Regions from separate parts of the Homo sapiens genome. Here region 2 is linked to region 1. Evidence: fine-mapped expression QTL. Tissue or cell type: whole blood. Region 1 holds a variant in brackets; the other region holds the start of a gene. All regions are shown on one strand. Distances are between the middles of the regions.

The links. PIP is the estimated chance that this variant, and not a neighbour inherited with it, causes the effect.
Region 2: it holds the start of PRSS36, and the variant in region 1 is fine-mapped to the expression of PRSS36 in whole blood (TOPMed, PIP above 0.99).

What each region holds. Positions count from the first base shown.
Region 1 is chr16:30,939,238-30,947,237 of GRCh38, reverse strand. It overlaps FBXL19 (F-box and leucine rich repeat protein 19), which reads right to left. Exons shown (of 11, transcript NM_001382779.1): 8 at 4,959-5,122; 9 at 4,702-4,863; 10 at 290-508; 11 at 1-186. The coding sequence ends at 8. Among named protein-coding and RNA genes, the nearest start is that of ORAI3, 5.8 kb to the left of the region's middle. RefSeq lists an enhancer at 3,732-4,674 and a silencer at 5,099-5,228. The variant G/A (reference allele first, on the strand shown) is at 3,771.
Region 2 is chr16:31,145,268-31,153,267 of GRCh38, reverse strand. PRSS36 (serine protease 36) reads left to right here and starts at 3,202. Exons shown (of 15, transcript NM_173502.5): 1 at 3,202-3,269; 2 at 3,537-3,572; 3 at 3,770-3,805; 4 at 4,033-4,195; 5 at 4,593-4,873; 6 at 7,313-7,479. The coding sequence starts at 3,233. RefSeq lists enhancers at 2,958-3,494, 3,495-4,030, 4,031-4,568.

The sequences.
Region 1 (8,000 bases):
CGCCCAACTAGCTGTCCTTGAGAAGCAGCTTCTCCTCAGGGCAGCGGAAGGGGCCAGGGGGCCCGGCAGCTGCCAGCCGGGCACAAGCTTCGGGTGAGAGCTGGCGGCAGGAGCGCAGGTCTAGGCGGCGTAGACGAGGGCAGCGGCGGAACAGCGGGAGGCAGTGGTCCGTTAGGCGGTGGCAACCTGGGGATGGGGCAGTGGAGCTGAGACCAGGCAGGTGAGCAAGGGGTTGGCACTGGCCGTGGGGATCCACAGGCTGGCAGGACGGATGGGGGACCGTGCTTACCAGCAAGATTGAGGTGCACCAGGGTCTCGCGGAGTGGGGACGTGGGGGCCGTGAGGAGGTGAACACTGGGGTCCCCGACGTGGGCGCAGTGGCTCAGGTCCAGGGCGCTCAGCTGGGGTGCGTGACGCAGCAGGAGACGCAGGGAGGCATCTGTCAGCTCCAAACCTGCCAGACGCAGTTCTGCCACCCCCTGCAGCCGACCACGGCTCTCTGTTTGCCCTGGGCAGCCAGATGAGAGGTCAGCACTCCTGGCCACTCCCATCCCTGCGCCCAGGTATCCAGACCATCTGCCCTCCACCTGCTTCCCACATAAGTGAGTGACCTGGTGCACTCTGTGGCTTGCTCTTCTCAAAAACACCCTCATGGCCTGACCTCATCTGTCCACTCCTCACATCACCTCCTCGGAGGCCTTCCATGATTATTGTATTTGAGACTACAATATTCTGCCAGGCGTGGTGGCTCATGCCTGTAATCCTAGCACTTTGGGAAGCCGAGGCAGGCGGCTCACTTGAGGTCAGGAGTTCGAGACTAGCCTGGCCTAACATGGCAAAACCTTGTCTCTACTCAACATACAAAAATTAGCCGGGTATGGTGGCAGGCGCCTGTAATCCCGGCTACTCAGGAGGCTGAGGCAGGAGAATCACTTGAACCCGAGAGGTGGAGGTTGCAGTGAGCCACGATTGTGCCACTGCACCCCAGCCTGGGCAACAGAGCGAGACTCCATCTCAAAATAAATAAATAAATAAATAAAAGAGTCTGTGACCTCCCCTCCTCTCTCTTGCTGTCTTGCCATGTGACATGCCGATTCCTTCACGTTCCATCAAGAGTAAAAGCTACGTGAGGCTTCCCCAGAAGCTGAGCAGACGCAGGCACGATACTTCCTGTACAGCTTGCAGAATCCTGAGCCAATTCAACCTCTTTTCTTTATAAATTACCCAGCCGAAGGTATTTCTTTATAGCAATGCAAAAACTAATGTAATTCTCCACACTCCTACCACTTCCTTGCATCATTTTTTCCTCTTTTTCTCACCATTTGACATATTATATGCATTTTTCTGACATACATACGTTTTCCTTTTTTTTTTTTTTTTTTTTTTTTCCCCGAGACGGAGTCTTGCTCTGTCACCCAGGCTGGAGTGCAGTGGTACAATCACAGCTTACTGCAGCCTCAACCTCCCTGTAGCTCACTGTAGCCTTGATCCTCCCACTTTGGCCTCCCAAAGTGCTGGGATTACAGGCCTGAGCCACCGCACCTGACCAGAGTTTACTTTTTTTTTTTTTTTTTTGAGATGGAGTCTCACTCTGTAACCCAGGATGGAGTACAGTGGTGCAATCTCGGCTCACTGCAACTTCCACCTCCCAGGTTCAAGCAATCTCCTTGCCACAGCCTCCCAAGTAGTTGGGATTAAAAGCATTTGCCACCACGCCTGGCTAATTTTTTGTATTTTTTTAGTAGAGATGGGGTTTCACCATGTTGGCCAGGCTGGTCTCAAACTCCTGACCTCAAGTGATCTGCCCACCTCGGCCTCCCAAAGTGCTAGGATTACAGGTGTGAGCCACCATGCCCGGCCCAGAGTTTACTTTTTTAACAAGTTCTCCAGTTTTGTGGATGCTGCTGGTCCCCCGACCACACTTTAAGAACCACAGCCTTGGGAGACAAGATCTCTGATCATCATTCCTGTTTACAGCCAGGAAACCCAGGCCTGGTGATGCTGAATCTGAACTCTTACCACAGTGTTGTCTGCCTCCCAGGCACCAGCCTATCCCTAAGATAAACTATTAATAGATCAGATGGCACAAACCATGAGGCTGCCCTCCAAACATGTTTTATGGAGTCTACAGAATGCTAAAAACTTCCTTAATGACTAACACTACAAAAAGGACATTTTTATAAATAAATTTACATACTGAGCTTTTCCTTGAAGAATCGTAAGATGTGGCCTCACTAGGCACTCCTTCCCACCAGATGATGACTGAGGGGAGCTGGGTGGCTAGGTGCCACTCCCTAATGTCCTACACCAATGCATCACTTCTGTTACCTCCCAGGCCAACTCTATGGGCACTTGACTTTGCAAGCCCTAAATTTTAACCCCTCCTCCTGTCTTTGAGGAGCCAAGCGCCTGGAGAGGGGATACCTTTACAGATGCCCTCAACCTTGGGCCACAGCTAAAGGCACAAGGAGGAAAGGCCCATAGAGGAAAGCAGAGGAAAGAGAAGTCACTTCTGGCTTGGGCAGGGAGGAGTAGGCATCAGTGAGGATTTCACTGAGGTGGTGGCATTTAAGCTGGGCAAGAGTTTGAAGGTGTATGGCACTGTTCACAATAGTAAAAGCCATGGAATCAACCTCAATGCCCATCAATGAAAGAATGAATAAAGAAAATGTGGTACATATACACCATGGAATACTATGCAGCCATAAAAAAGAACAAGATCATGTCCTTTACAGGAACATGGAAGGAGCTGGAGGCCATTATCCTTAGCAAACTAATGCAGGAACAGAAATTGCATGTTCTCACTTAGAAATGGGAGCTAAATGATGAGAACACATGGACACATCCATGGGAACAACACACCCTGGAGCCTTTCAGAGGGAGGAGGGAGAGGATCAGGAGAAATAACTAATGGTAAATAGACTTAATACCTGGGTGATGAAATAATCGGTACAACAAACCCCCATGACACAAGTTTACCCATTTAACAAACCTGCACATATACCCATGAACTTAAAAGTTAAAAAAAAAATTTAAAAACTAAAAAAAAAAAAAAAAAAAAAAAAAAAGGCCCACCTTCCTGAGCTCCTGATAAAGGGCTGAACTGAACTGAATTCCAGCAGGAGGAAATGGACCAGCCAGCACTTTCTCACCTCCCAGGATGCACCATTCCCAATGCCCACCTTACCCCCCACCCATAGCTCTCCAACTCAGTCCAATTCTGGTAAGAGTGGACAATGGCTGAGTGCTCTGGCCTGACTGGGTGACCTGCAGCAGTCAATCCCTCTGGGCCTCCAGTGCCTCATCTAGAATACGGGAAGAATCTTAGTTGCTTCTCTATTCTCCCCTTTCAGGGCTGTTGTGGAGGGGGCATGGTGGGAAGAAGGGAACTATGAAAGAGAGGGGTGAAAGAACTCCAAAAGAAAAGATTCTTTTGGCCAGGTGTGGTGGCTCACGCCTATAATCCCAACACTTTGGAAGGCAGAGGTGGGCAGATCACTTGAGACAAGGAGTTCGAGATCGGCCTGGACAACATGATGAAACCCTGTTTCTATAAGAATTACAGGCCGGGTGCGGTGGCTAACACCTGTAATCCCAGCACTTTGGGAGGCCGAGGCAGGCGGATCATGAGGTCAGGAGATCAAGACCATCCTGGCTAACACAGTGAAACCCCGTCTCTACTAAAAATACAAAAAATTAGCCAGGCGTGGTGGCGGGCGCCTGTAGTCCCAGCTACTTGGGAGGCTGAGGCAGGAGAATGGCGTGAACCC[G/A]GGAGGTGGAGCTTGCAGTGATCCGAGATAGCACCACTGCACTCCAGCCTGGGCGACAGAGCAAGACTTCACCTCAAAAAAAAAAAAAAAAAAAAAAAAATTACAAAAAAATTAGCCAGGCGTGGTGGCACACGCCTGTAGGCCCAGCTACTCAGGAGGCTGAGGTGGGGAGGATCACTTGAACCCAGGAGGCATAAGTTGCAGTAAGCCGAGATCTTGCCACTGCACTCCAGTCTGGGTGACAGAGCCAGATGGTCTCAAAAAACAAAAACAAACAAAAGGATTATCTTATTTCAGGGGACTGCAAATCTCCTTTTGAAAATCTTTCCTCAAACTAGACCTCTCCCATCCTGATTGCTCATTCAAGTTATTCATTCAACAGCTATCTATGGAGCAGCCACTGAGAACGTGCTGGGGGACCAGCCAGCGCTTGCCCTCAGGGAGCTGGAGACCCTGGCAGGAGGGCACAGATGTGCATCAAGGCACTCCACAATTGCCCAGTATTATGCTGGCGGGCTGCTCTCAAAGCTGAGAGGGACTCTGAGCTCAATGTGGGGTGGGATCAGGGAGAGCTTCTTGGAGGAAGTGGCATTTATACCCAGGCCTAAAGGATGATGAGATTTAAGTAGATGAAGAGAGATGGCCTCTGCTCCCAGCATCCCCCTCTGCCAATATGGGCCTCCTGCCCCACCAAACTGCTGAGTCTCACACTCCCTGGGAAAACCCTGTTCCTTTCAAGACTCAGTTCAAAGTACACAGCAGGTGGGTGAATGAATGAATAATGCCCAACCAGGGCCTTCCTATTCAAACTCATGTATTCTTTCCTTTCTTCAAATACTTTACCATCCAGCATGAGTCAGAAGAGACCTGAGAGGCCTCCTACCCTACCCTTGCCCAGCCCATTCTCCAGAAAAGCAAACAGAGGTTGCACCTGGTTTGGTGTCTGGTGGAGGCAGCAGCAACTCCCGGAGCTGGGAGTCTTTAACATCCTCGATCCAGCGGAGGTCCAGGAGCCGCAGGGCTGGCAGTGGGGCTGAGCCCAGGGCAGAGACAGAGAGCCAGGAGCAGCCAGAGAGCACCAGCTCCTGCAGGCCTGCGGAGAGGGGGCAGTCAGGAAGCAGGTGCTGTGAGGACTCCATCCCAGGCCTGTCCCTGTCCCCACCCTGTCCTCCGTACCACACACCCTACCTTGTAGTCGGTTCAGAAGCCACATGAGCTGCTTCTTGGAGACACCTGTCCAGCTGAGGTCCAGGGCACGGGGCTGGCGGCGAACCACACCACTGAGCATGGGCGGGGTCAGTGACTTCCGCCGGCTCAGGTCCATTCGAGGCCACAGACGCTTGTCATAGCACCTGGCGGCCATAGGGGGGAGACAGAGACCTCAGCCCTCAGCTCTCAGCAGCCCACAGTTCCCAGGCTCCCCAGCTCCAAGGGTGCACCCCAGCTCTCTTCTGGCCACACAGACAACAGGGTAGCAAGAAGCACCTGACCTCAGCCAAGAGCACTGGGATTGGAACCCAACTCCATCACTAACTGGAAATGAGACCCTGGGCAAGTCTGTTCCTCTCCCTGAGCCTCAGAAGCCTCGTTTATGATTGAAGGCAATAGCCCCCCCACTCTGCCTGCCCACAGGGCAGCTGTCAGGTCACATGGGCTCATCCCAGCTGTGGGCCTCCCAGCATAGAAAGTGTGCTGCCCAACACATACACAAATGCCACGCATGCTGCCTGATGTCATGCCAAGGGGACTGGTGTTATCCAGTCGTCTCCAGCCACCCTTGGGCTTCTTGATTCCTGACTGAGTTCTGGTGCTCATGGGTCCTTGCCTCCTTTACTCATCTCTGCTTCTGATCCACACCTGTCCCATCTTGACAGCCAGCTGCCCGCAGCTGGACTTACAGCCCTAATATCTTCCCTATTACATTACTGTGTTCCTCCAACTACAATGTAAATTCCACAAGGGCAGATTTGCGTTTTCCACTTTTTGAAAAAAAATTTTTTTTGAGACAGGGTCTCACTCTGTAACCCAGGCTGGACTCAGGCTCACCGCAGCCTCAACCTACTGGGCTCAAGCAATCCTCCCACCTCAGCCTCCTGAGTAGCTGGGACCACAGGCACATGTCACCACGCCTGGCTAATTTTTAAACAATTTTTTTGTAGAGACAGGGTCTCACTATGTTGCCTAGGCTGGTCTTGATCTCCTGGCCTCAAGCGATCCTCCTGCCTTGGCCTCCCAAAACACTGGGATTACAGGCATGAGCTACTGCACCCAGCTGCCCATTTGTAATGAATGAATCAAGCTAGTAACTACTTAAAGCTTCCACTGACCACTCTCCCCCACCTCCTCATCTACAGCATTTCATTTATTCACTCTGATTATAGAAAGCGTTATAGGTCCCAAGTATTGAAGCTACAAAGATGAACGAGTCCTAAGCAACATTAAACAGGTTTCCTAACCCGAGCACTCCACAGGCCTCAACAGACTATCTAACATGCAGTGGGCTGGGTGCAGTGGCTCACACCTGTAATCCCAGCACTTTGGGAGGCCGAGGTGGGTGGATCATGAGGTCAGGAATTCGAGAACAGCCTGGCTGTTCTACTAGTGAAACCCTGTCTCTACTAAAAGTACAAAAAATTAGCTGGGCATGGTGGCGGGCGCCTGTAATCCTAGCTACTCGGGAGGCTGAGGCAGGAGAATTACTTGAACCCGGGAGGCGGAGATTGCAGCGAGCCGAGATCGCACCACTGCACACCAGCTGGGGCAACAGTGAGAGACTCCATCTCAAAAACAAACAAACAAACAAACAAACAAAAAACATGCAGTGAACTGGAGAAGGGCCTCTCAAACGTACTTCCCCAGGAATCCTTCCCCACCTCTCCCAAGGTAATCTAGTAACATTTTGTAGTACACTGAAGTTCCTTTGGACTCAGTTTGAGAACTCTCTTCTCTGAGTTCAGTAGTTCTCAAAGGCATGTCCAGAAATGCCTCTGAGACTCAATAGACTGTGTCAGAAGCAGCAGGCCCAGGAAGCTTTTTTTTTTTTTTCTTGAGACAGTGTCTTGCTTAGTCACCCAGGCTGGGGTGCAGTACTGCGATCACAGCTCACTGCAACCTTAAACTCCTGGGCTCAAGCCATCCTCCTACCTCAGCCTCCTGAGTAGCTGGGACTACAGGCACATGCCACCACACCTGACTTTTTTTTTTTTTTTGAGACAGAGTTTCGCTCTTGTTGCCCAGGCTGGAGTGCAATGGTGTGATCTTGGCTCACTGAAACCACCATCTCCCAAGTTCAAGCGATTCTCCCGCCTCAGCCTCCAGAGTAGCTGGGATTACAGGCATGCGCCACCACGCCCGGCTAATTTTTTGTATTTTTAGTAGAGATAGGGTTTCTCCATGTTGGCCAGGCTGGTCTCGAAATCCTGACCTCAGGTGATCTGCCCACTTTGGCCTCCCATAGTGCTGGGATTACAGGCGTGAGCCACTGTGCCTGGCCTATTTTTTTATTTTTAGTAGAGACAAGGTTGTCCAGGCTGGTTTTGAACTCCTGAGCTCAAGCGATCCTTCCCTTGGCCTCCCAAGGGAAGCTTTCTCTTGCCTCCCTCCCTGCCCTCATGACTCTGAAAGGCTTTTCCTTGTAGAAGCCCTGGGCTGGGGCAGTGATTCCCAAGCTCCAGTATTTGCTGTTCACTTATCTGCGTAACATGATTTATCTTTGAATCATCTCCTCTTTGCACTTAAAACCAGTATTGTTGCCGGGCGCGGTGGCTCATGCGTGTAATCCCAGCACTTTGGGAGGCCGAGGTGGGTGGATCACTAGGTCAGGAGATCAAGACCATCCAGGCTAACACAGTGAAACCCCGTCTCTACTAAAAAAAAAATACAAAAAATTAGCTGGGCGTGGTGGAGGGCGCCTGTAGTCCCAGATACTCGGGAGGCTGAGGCAGGAGAATGGCGTGAATCTGGGAGGTGGAGCTTGCAGTGAGCCGAGATCGTGCCACTGCACTCCAGCCTGGGCGACAGAGCGAGACTCCGTCTCAAAAAAAAAACAAAAAAAAAAACCCCAGTATTGTTTCACATAAATATGTTAATCTTAAAAATAAACACAAAAGTCCAAGTGTGGTGTAATCCCAGCACTTTGGGAGGCCAAGGTGGACAGATCACGAGGTCAGGAGATTGAGACCATCCTGGCTAACACGGTGAAACCCCATCTCTACTAAAAATACAAAAAAT
Region 2 (8,000 bases), 210 kb before region 1:
AATCATTGTCTTGGCTGGGCACGGTGGCTCATGCCTGTAATCCCAGCACTTTGGGAGGCCGAGGCAGGTGGATCACCTGAGGTCAGGAGTTTGAGACCAGCCTGACCAACATGGAGAAACCCCTGGGCAGCTGGGACTACAGGTGCACACCACCACACACAGGATCGCGTTATGCTGCCCAGGTTGGTCTAGAACTCCTGGCCTCCAGCAATCCTCCCATCTTGGCCTCCCAAAGCACTAGTACAGGCTTGAGCCACTGCACCTGGCCCCAAAATTTTATTTATTTATTTATTTATTTCGAGACAGAGTCTCACTCTATCACCCAGCCTGGAGTGCAGTGGTGCGATTTCAGCTGAGCACAACCTCCGCCTCCTGGGTTCAAGCCATTCTCCTGTCTCAGCCTCCTGAGTAGCTGGGATTACAGGCACATGCCACCATGCCCAGCTAATTTTTTAATTTTGAGTAGAGATAGGGTTTTACCATGTTGGCCAGGCTGCTGGTCTTGAACTCCTGACCTCATGATCCACCTGCCTCGGCCTCCCAAAGTGCTGGGATTACCAGCATGAGCCACCGCGCCCAGCTCCAAAATGTTTATTAACCACTAAATTGGAGCAAGCAATGTATCGGTGAGGGTCTCCAGGGCGTGCATGTTTTGCGTCAATGACACTTGCACTCTCTTCTTTCCTACCTTTGCCCATTACCTCATTTTTCTGAGTTTTGGTTAAATGATTGGTTATTTATCCTTTGAAGGGCAAATAGCTACCCAAGCAGCAAGTTAAACAAATGCCTGAGGAGGCTCTCATTGTTAAGAAATCTGAAGTTAAGACTCAATTTACCTCCATCGTTTCCTGTGGACAGGCTAAGGCTAGCAGGTTTATCAATTGAGCCCAGTCCGTTGCTGGGTGGCTGAATTTGCATTTTCCCTCTTCCTGCTCACTTCTCATTTTCCCTCAATCTTGCCACCCTGGGATTGCACCTCCCAATTAAGCACAAGCATGCAGGCTTTGCCTAGGCCTGTTTTCTAGGGCAACTAGACTCATAGACCAATATTATTATTAATTGATATTATCAGTAAGAAGATAGATACACATGTGTAAATATTCCTGGGTTGACCCTGCATTTCTGCTGTCCACCCTGATTTGTTCCCTAAGAGTGACCTTTATGGACCATATAATGGTCTCCCTTGAACTCTGGCCTCTGGGAGGTTTCAATGAAAAGAGCCAGGGGGTGATCAGAGGATGGGAGGATCCCAGCACTTTTGGAAGACTGAGGCAGCAAGATCGCTTGAGACAGGAGTTTGAGACCAGCCTGGGCAACATAATAAGACCCCATCTCTACAAAAATAAAAAACATTAGCTGGGTATGGTGGTGCGTGCCTGTAGTCCCAGCTTCTCAGGAGGCTGAGGCCAGAGGATCGCTTAAGCCCAGGAATTCGAGGTTACAGTGAGCTATAATCACAGCACTGCACTCCAGCCTGGGTGACAGAGTGAGACCGTGTCTCTAAAATTTTTTAATTGGTTTAATTAAAAATAGAGAGGATGAGATGAGAGTGAGATGGGGATTTTTCTTTCCCCACTCCCTCTCTGCTGGTAAAGGCTGCATTTCTCTATTGAAGGCCACGGCTCCTAACAGCTATCTCTTCCATAGCTGCAGCTCTTGCTGGGTTCCAGTAACTGCCCCCTCTCTGCCTCTTCAGGCCAGCAGGTAGCAAGGGCTCTCTATTATTGCTGGCCCCAGGATGCGTTACCATCCCTCTTTGGTTTCCTTTTTTTTTTTTTTTTTGTGAGACGGAGTTCGCTCTTGTCACCCAGGCTAGAGTGCAACGGCGCTATCTTGGCTCACTGCAACCTCCACGTCCTGGGTTCAAGCATTTTTATCTGCCTCAGCCTCCCTAATAGGTGGGATTACAGGTGAGTTCCACCACACTCGGCTAATTTTTGTATTTTTAGTATAGATGGGGCTTCTCCAAGTTAGCCAGGCTGGTCTTGAACTCCTGACCTCAGGTGATCTGCCCGCCTCGGCCTACCAAAGTGCTGGGATTACAGCCGTGAGCCACCCAGCCTCTTTGGTTTCCTTTGACCCTGCCTACACTTCTATAAATAGTTTCTTCCTTAAACTCTCTTCAACTCCTCTTTGAAGAGCCATATGTTTCTTTCTTCTTCTTATTCTTCTTTTTTTTTTTCTTTTTGTTGTTGTTGTTGAGACAGGGTCTCGCTTTGTCACCCAGGCTGGAGTGCAGTGGCACAATCATAGCTCACTGCAACCTCGACCTCCCAGGCTCAAGCAATCCTCCCACCTCATCTCCCGAGTAGCTGGGATACAGACGTGCACCACCACGCCCTGCAGTTCATAATTTTTGTATTTTTTAATTTTTTGTAGAGATGGGGTCTTGCTATGTTGACCAGGCTGGTCTTGAACTCCTAGCCTCAAGCAATCCTCCCACCTCAGTCTCCCAGAGTGTTAGGATCACAGGAGTGAGCCACCGTGCTCGGCCAAGTCATATGTCCCTTAAACTGGCTCTTACTGATACACACCAAGAGGTTGGGTTACTTTCCCAAAGTCACACAGAGTAAGTGACAGGGCAGCTAAGAGCATTGTCACTGGAACACAGAGCAGGGTGGAGGCTTTTTCAGCCTCGCCAGCCTGCCCAGCCCCCTCCCAGGGTCCCTATGCCCTGCCCAACCTGCTGGAATCTGTGATCCTTTTGTTGGGATGGGATTGAATTCCCTAGGGCTCCTGTCCCAGACCTGGCCAGCAGCTCCAGTAACCAGAGCTGTGTGAGAAGAAAAGGCCAAGCCACTGGGGCAGCCGCACCCCAAACAGAGGTGAGGTCTCCGATGAGTCATGCCCGTGAGGGGCCACTTCCCCTGTCCTAAGGGCCACTGCTCACCAAGGACACAGAACACTGTCCTCCTCTTTGACCTTTGCCTGCAGTGTTTTTCATCCCTCCCTCTCCCACCCAACAGGTGTCCAGGAGCTAGGACACCTGTCCTCCACCCCCACCCTGGGCCTCCAGAGACATGAGATGTGCGCAGGGCTCTGGGTGGGGCCTTCAGGCTCCCCAGCTTCCCCCTTCCAGCCCCAGATCCTCTCAGATTCCCAGAGATGGGCTCCAGCCAGGGAGGGTGGGGCTGCCCCTGGGACCATCAGGAGTCACGGGCTGCCTGGGCAGTGACAGAGCCCTGCAGGGAGCAGACCTTCACTTGGCTCTGCCTCCGCTGACTCTAGCGCCATGGCCCGGCACCTGCTCCTCCCCCTTGTGATGCTTGGTAACCTCAGGGGACAAGAGTGGCTGCAAAGGGCCTGGGTCCTGGCATCTGGGGGGCTGGAGAGCAGGATTCCTGGTTTCTGTGTGGGGAGCAGGAAGTCAGAGAGAAGGAAGTGAGGCAGCAGAAGGCGAGGATGTATCAGAGGAGGGAGAGGGAGGCCTGGGTGCCCTGGGGAGACGGAGGCTAGGAGGCTGGGGGAGGGAGTCAGGGAGGGCACATACTGAGTGCGAGTCGCCAGCCTCTTCCTGCCTACCTCTGTCTTTCCAGTCATCAGTCCCATCCCAGGAGCCTTCCAGGACTCAGGTAAGGTAGCCGGACTGGGGGAAAGTCACGTGCAGAGGCAGAAAAGACCAGAGGACTGGCATGGGTGCTGGCAGGGGTTGCTGAACGGACAGGGAAGTGGGAAGATAGGGTCGGGGGTTGGAGAGCAGGAAGTGGGGCTGGGCGGTGCAGGCCTGGAAGTCACAAGTGTCCTCCTCTCTTTCCCCTCTGGCTCCCAGCTCTCAGTCCTACCCAGGAAGAACCTGAAGATCTGGGTAAGGAAGAGGCCTTGGCACCCTCAGACCTTAAAGGAGGCTAAGGCTGGTCAGGCCATGAGGGAGGTGGAAAAGACCAGAAATGTAGACAAGCCTGGGTCCTCTATGTTCTTTGTTCAGAGGGGCAAACTGAAGTGGGTGGAGGACGGGCCTTCGTCCTGAGTTACCTGGGCTTCTGGAGTGGGGAACCCGAGGGGAGCTTTGGCTTCCACGGCTCCCCGTTGCAGACTGCGGGCGCCCTGAGCCCTCGGCCCGCATCGTGGGGGGCTCAAACGCGCAGCCGGGCACCTGGCCTTGGCAAGTGAGCCTGCACCATGGAGGTGGCCACATCTGCGGGGGCTCCCTCATCGCCCCCTCCTGGGTCCTCTCCGCTGCTCACTGTTTCATGACGTGAGTATTCGCCCTGGTCCTGGCCCCTCTCCGCCAAAAGCTGGCCCCCGCCCCCGCAGTTGGTCCCCTCCTCCCGCCCCACTTCCGTCCTCAAGGATAATTTGGAGCCAAGCTGTCCCCAAAGCGAGGTGCTATTCGAGGCATCATGGTTCCGAGTGGGGCAAGGCTGCCGGACTGGTCCCACCACTCCACTCAATATCCGGGTCTGAATCCCATCTTTCCAATGACCCCCCCACCACCAGCTCCAAATCGGATTTGCTCTTCCCCTTTGAGGAGTATCAGCACCAAATCTGGATCGGATAGCACCTGCCCCTCTGGCTCTGAGCCCCTGCCCCCAACGAGGGTCTGCCCCCTCCATAGGGTCAACCTAACCTCCTACTGCCCCGGTCGAGCGCAGGAATGGGACGCTGGAGCCCGCGGCCGAGTGGTCGGTACTGCTGGGCGTGCACTCCCAGGACGGGCCCCTGGACGGCGCGCACACCCGCGCAGTGGCCGCCATCGTGGTGCCGGCCAACTACAGCCAAGTGGAGCTGGGCGCCGACCTGGCCCTGCTGCGCCTGGCCTCACCCGCCAGCCTGGGCCCCGCCGTGTGGCCTGTCTGCCTGCCCCGCGCCTCACACCGCTTCGTGCACGGCACCGCCTGCTGGGCCACCGGCTGGGGAGACGTCCAGGAGGCAGGTGAGTGGGACGGGACAAGAGGGGAGGGCCTCGGGGAGGTGGGGCTTCGAGAGGTGAGGTTCCTAGGGCGGGGCCTCAGGAGGTGGGGCCACGGAGCGGAGCCTGCGGGGAGCGTTGGAGGGTAGGTTTCTGCGGGTCGGTGGATGAATCCCACACCGATCTCCATGTAGCCTTCTCCCTGCAAGGATTCTCAAACTAAGACCACGGAATCACCCACACGCACCCCATTCCCTCCTTACCTGTCCTTCCAGTTTTTTCTTTCCTGGGTTTAGGCTCCGACTAGGGTTCCCATCCCAGCTCTAACATGTCAGACAAAGCACTTCACCCAGTACATTTCCTCATCTGTAACACGAGGAAAATAGCCATACCCACTTCAAGGGGTGGTTGAGTGGATTAAATGAGAAAATCCATGTAAAGTTCATAGTACAGTGCCTGGCATAGCAATAACCAATGCACTTTACATATTTCACCTCAGGTAATCTATAGTAAAGCACTACAGCATAAGGCTGGCCTATAATAGATATTCAGCAAATGCCAGTCTGTGCCTCCCTCCCATCCGCCTTCCTCTCATTCCATCCACCCCCACTCATCTCTCTACTCCCCACCTCCTCTCTTCTTCCTACCCACCATCATTCATTCAATCATTCTTTCACTCAAGATATTTCTTGAGCACCTTCTACATGCCAGGCACCGTGTTAGGCATTAGAGAGACACCAGTGAACATAAAAAGCCAAAATCCTGCCTTTTCAGAGTTTACATCCTAGGAGATAGACAAGCAACAAATTCAATAAATAAGCACGCATTATGTTAGAAGGTGGGGGGGAATAGACCAAATCTCCATCCCCATCATCCCCATCACCCAAGCTTTCCATGCTCCCAGGGCCCCCACAAATATCCACATCAGCCGTGGTCAGACCTGTGCCCATCCTCGGGGCTTTGGGTAGGTGCTACAGGGGAAGATGCTACAGCCTCTGCTTGTGGAGGTCCCATCAGGGCAGGAGGTGATGAGGAAGCGTCACTGTGAGCCCCAGGAAGTCTGTGTGAATGGGGCCAGGCCATCCTAACAATGGGCACCCAGAGAGGGAGATTTCTGCAGAGATTTTTGAAGAGAGGGTACATTGCAGGAAGATGGGGGGAGATGAAGGCCACCCTGTGGACCCAGATAAGTCATGTTAGATGAAGAAGGGCCAGGATGCCAGGCTGGAGTGAGAGGGGTACAGGCACCTGGGCTGCAAAGGCTGCTGTGGCCCGGCCATGAAGACCTTAAGATCAGACTGAGGGCCAGAGCACCCCACCAGCTCCAGGGACGCCCAGGACAATCCCCAACTTCCCTGGTGAGCCCCAAGTACAGCTTCAGCCATCACCTGACCTCAAATTCTTTTCTTTTTTTCATCAATTCTTTTTTTCTTTTTGAGACAGAGTTTCACTCTTGTTGCCCAGGCTGGAGTGCAACGGCGCGATCTAGGCTCACTGCAACCTCCGCCTCCCAGCTTCAAGCAGATTCTACTGCCTCAATCTCCCAAGTAGCTGGGATTATAGGCACCCACCACCACGCCCAGCTAATTTTTTGTATTTTTAGTAGAGACAGGGTTTCACTATGTTGGGCAGGCTAGTTTTGAACTCCTAACCTCAGGTGATCCACCTGCCTCGGCCTCCCAAAGTGCTGGAATTACAGGTGTGAGTCACCGCGCCTTTGACCTCAGATTCTGAGTGAGTTGGGGAAGGAGTTCTGTCTGTACTTCCCCCCACCCCCTACTCCTTTCTGGATCCTGAAGCTGTTTCCGTCAAAAGCAGGATGGGCTGCAGCACCAAGTTTAGACAGTGTGATCCGTTTATTTTTCTTGGTGAGATCAGAACTGAACTTGAGTAGCATTCCTCTTCATTGCTGAAGTGAAGAGTGGATCAGAAGGCTGGGTCAGTTATCCAGGCCCAAAGCTATGCAGCCTCAACTAGTGTAGTTGTTTAGAATGCCAAGACGTCACAAATGAGAGGTTTTCATGAACTGGGAACTGACTGGAGGAGGGGAGTTGAGAGAGGAGACAGGGATGACACCCAGATTCCATGCTTGGCAACTCAGGACAGGACCATGTCAAGTCCGTATGGCATCTCTGTGAAAAGATGTCTCTGGACCAACACAACTCCACGTGAGAGCTCAGAACTTAATGGTTTTAGTCCCTACATTGCATCCTTTGTTGCAGTGCACAACCTGCACAACCATGCATGGCAGCTCTCACTAGGAGCTTGATGAGACCATTCCTGAGATGAAAAAGTAGAAAGAACAGATAGAAGCAGGAGGAGATGTGGTGAATGTGGTGGGCTGAGAGGCCATGGGGCATCTAGCTGATGTCCAAGAAGCAGCCGCAGGAGGCAAACCTGAACCCTGGGAACTGGGGATGCCATACCTGCCTCACAGCACCTGCTCTCTGGTTCTGCCTCCAGATCCTCTGCCTCTCCCCTGGGTGCTACAGGAAGTGGAGCTAAGGCTGCTGGGCGAGGCCACCTGTCAATGTCTCTACAGCCAGCCCGGTCCCTTCAACCTCACTCTCCAGATATTGCCAGGGATGCTGTGTGCTGGCTACCCAGAGGGCCGCAGGGACACCTGCCAGGTGAGGGAAGGCCCCGGCACCTGCCTGGCAGGGCCAGAGTCCTAACCAGTGACAAATAGATAAAGGACATCTCTCCAAGCCTCATCTGCAAAAGGAGGGCAAGATTGCCAAGGGATGGGGTTGACGTGAAGTTTTTTGTTTGTGTATTTTGAGACAGAGCCTCACTTTGTCGTCCAGGCTGGACTGCAGTGGCGCAATCTCGGCTTACTGCAACCTCCCCCTGCTCCACCCCCACCGCTCAAGCGACTCTTGTGCTTCAGCCCCCCAAGTAGCTGAGATTACAGGCATGCACCACCACAGACTGCTAATTTTGCATTCACTTGCGCCTGGCCAAGTGAATTTATTTATGTATTTATTTATTTATTTATTTAATTTATTTTTTGAGACGGAGTTCCTTTTTTTTTTTTTTTTTTTTTGAGACGGAGTCTTGCTCAGTCGCCCAGGCTGGAGTGCAGTAGCATGATCTCAGCTCACTGCAACCTCCGCCTCCCGGGTTCACGCAATTCTCCTGCCTCAGCCTC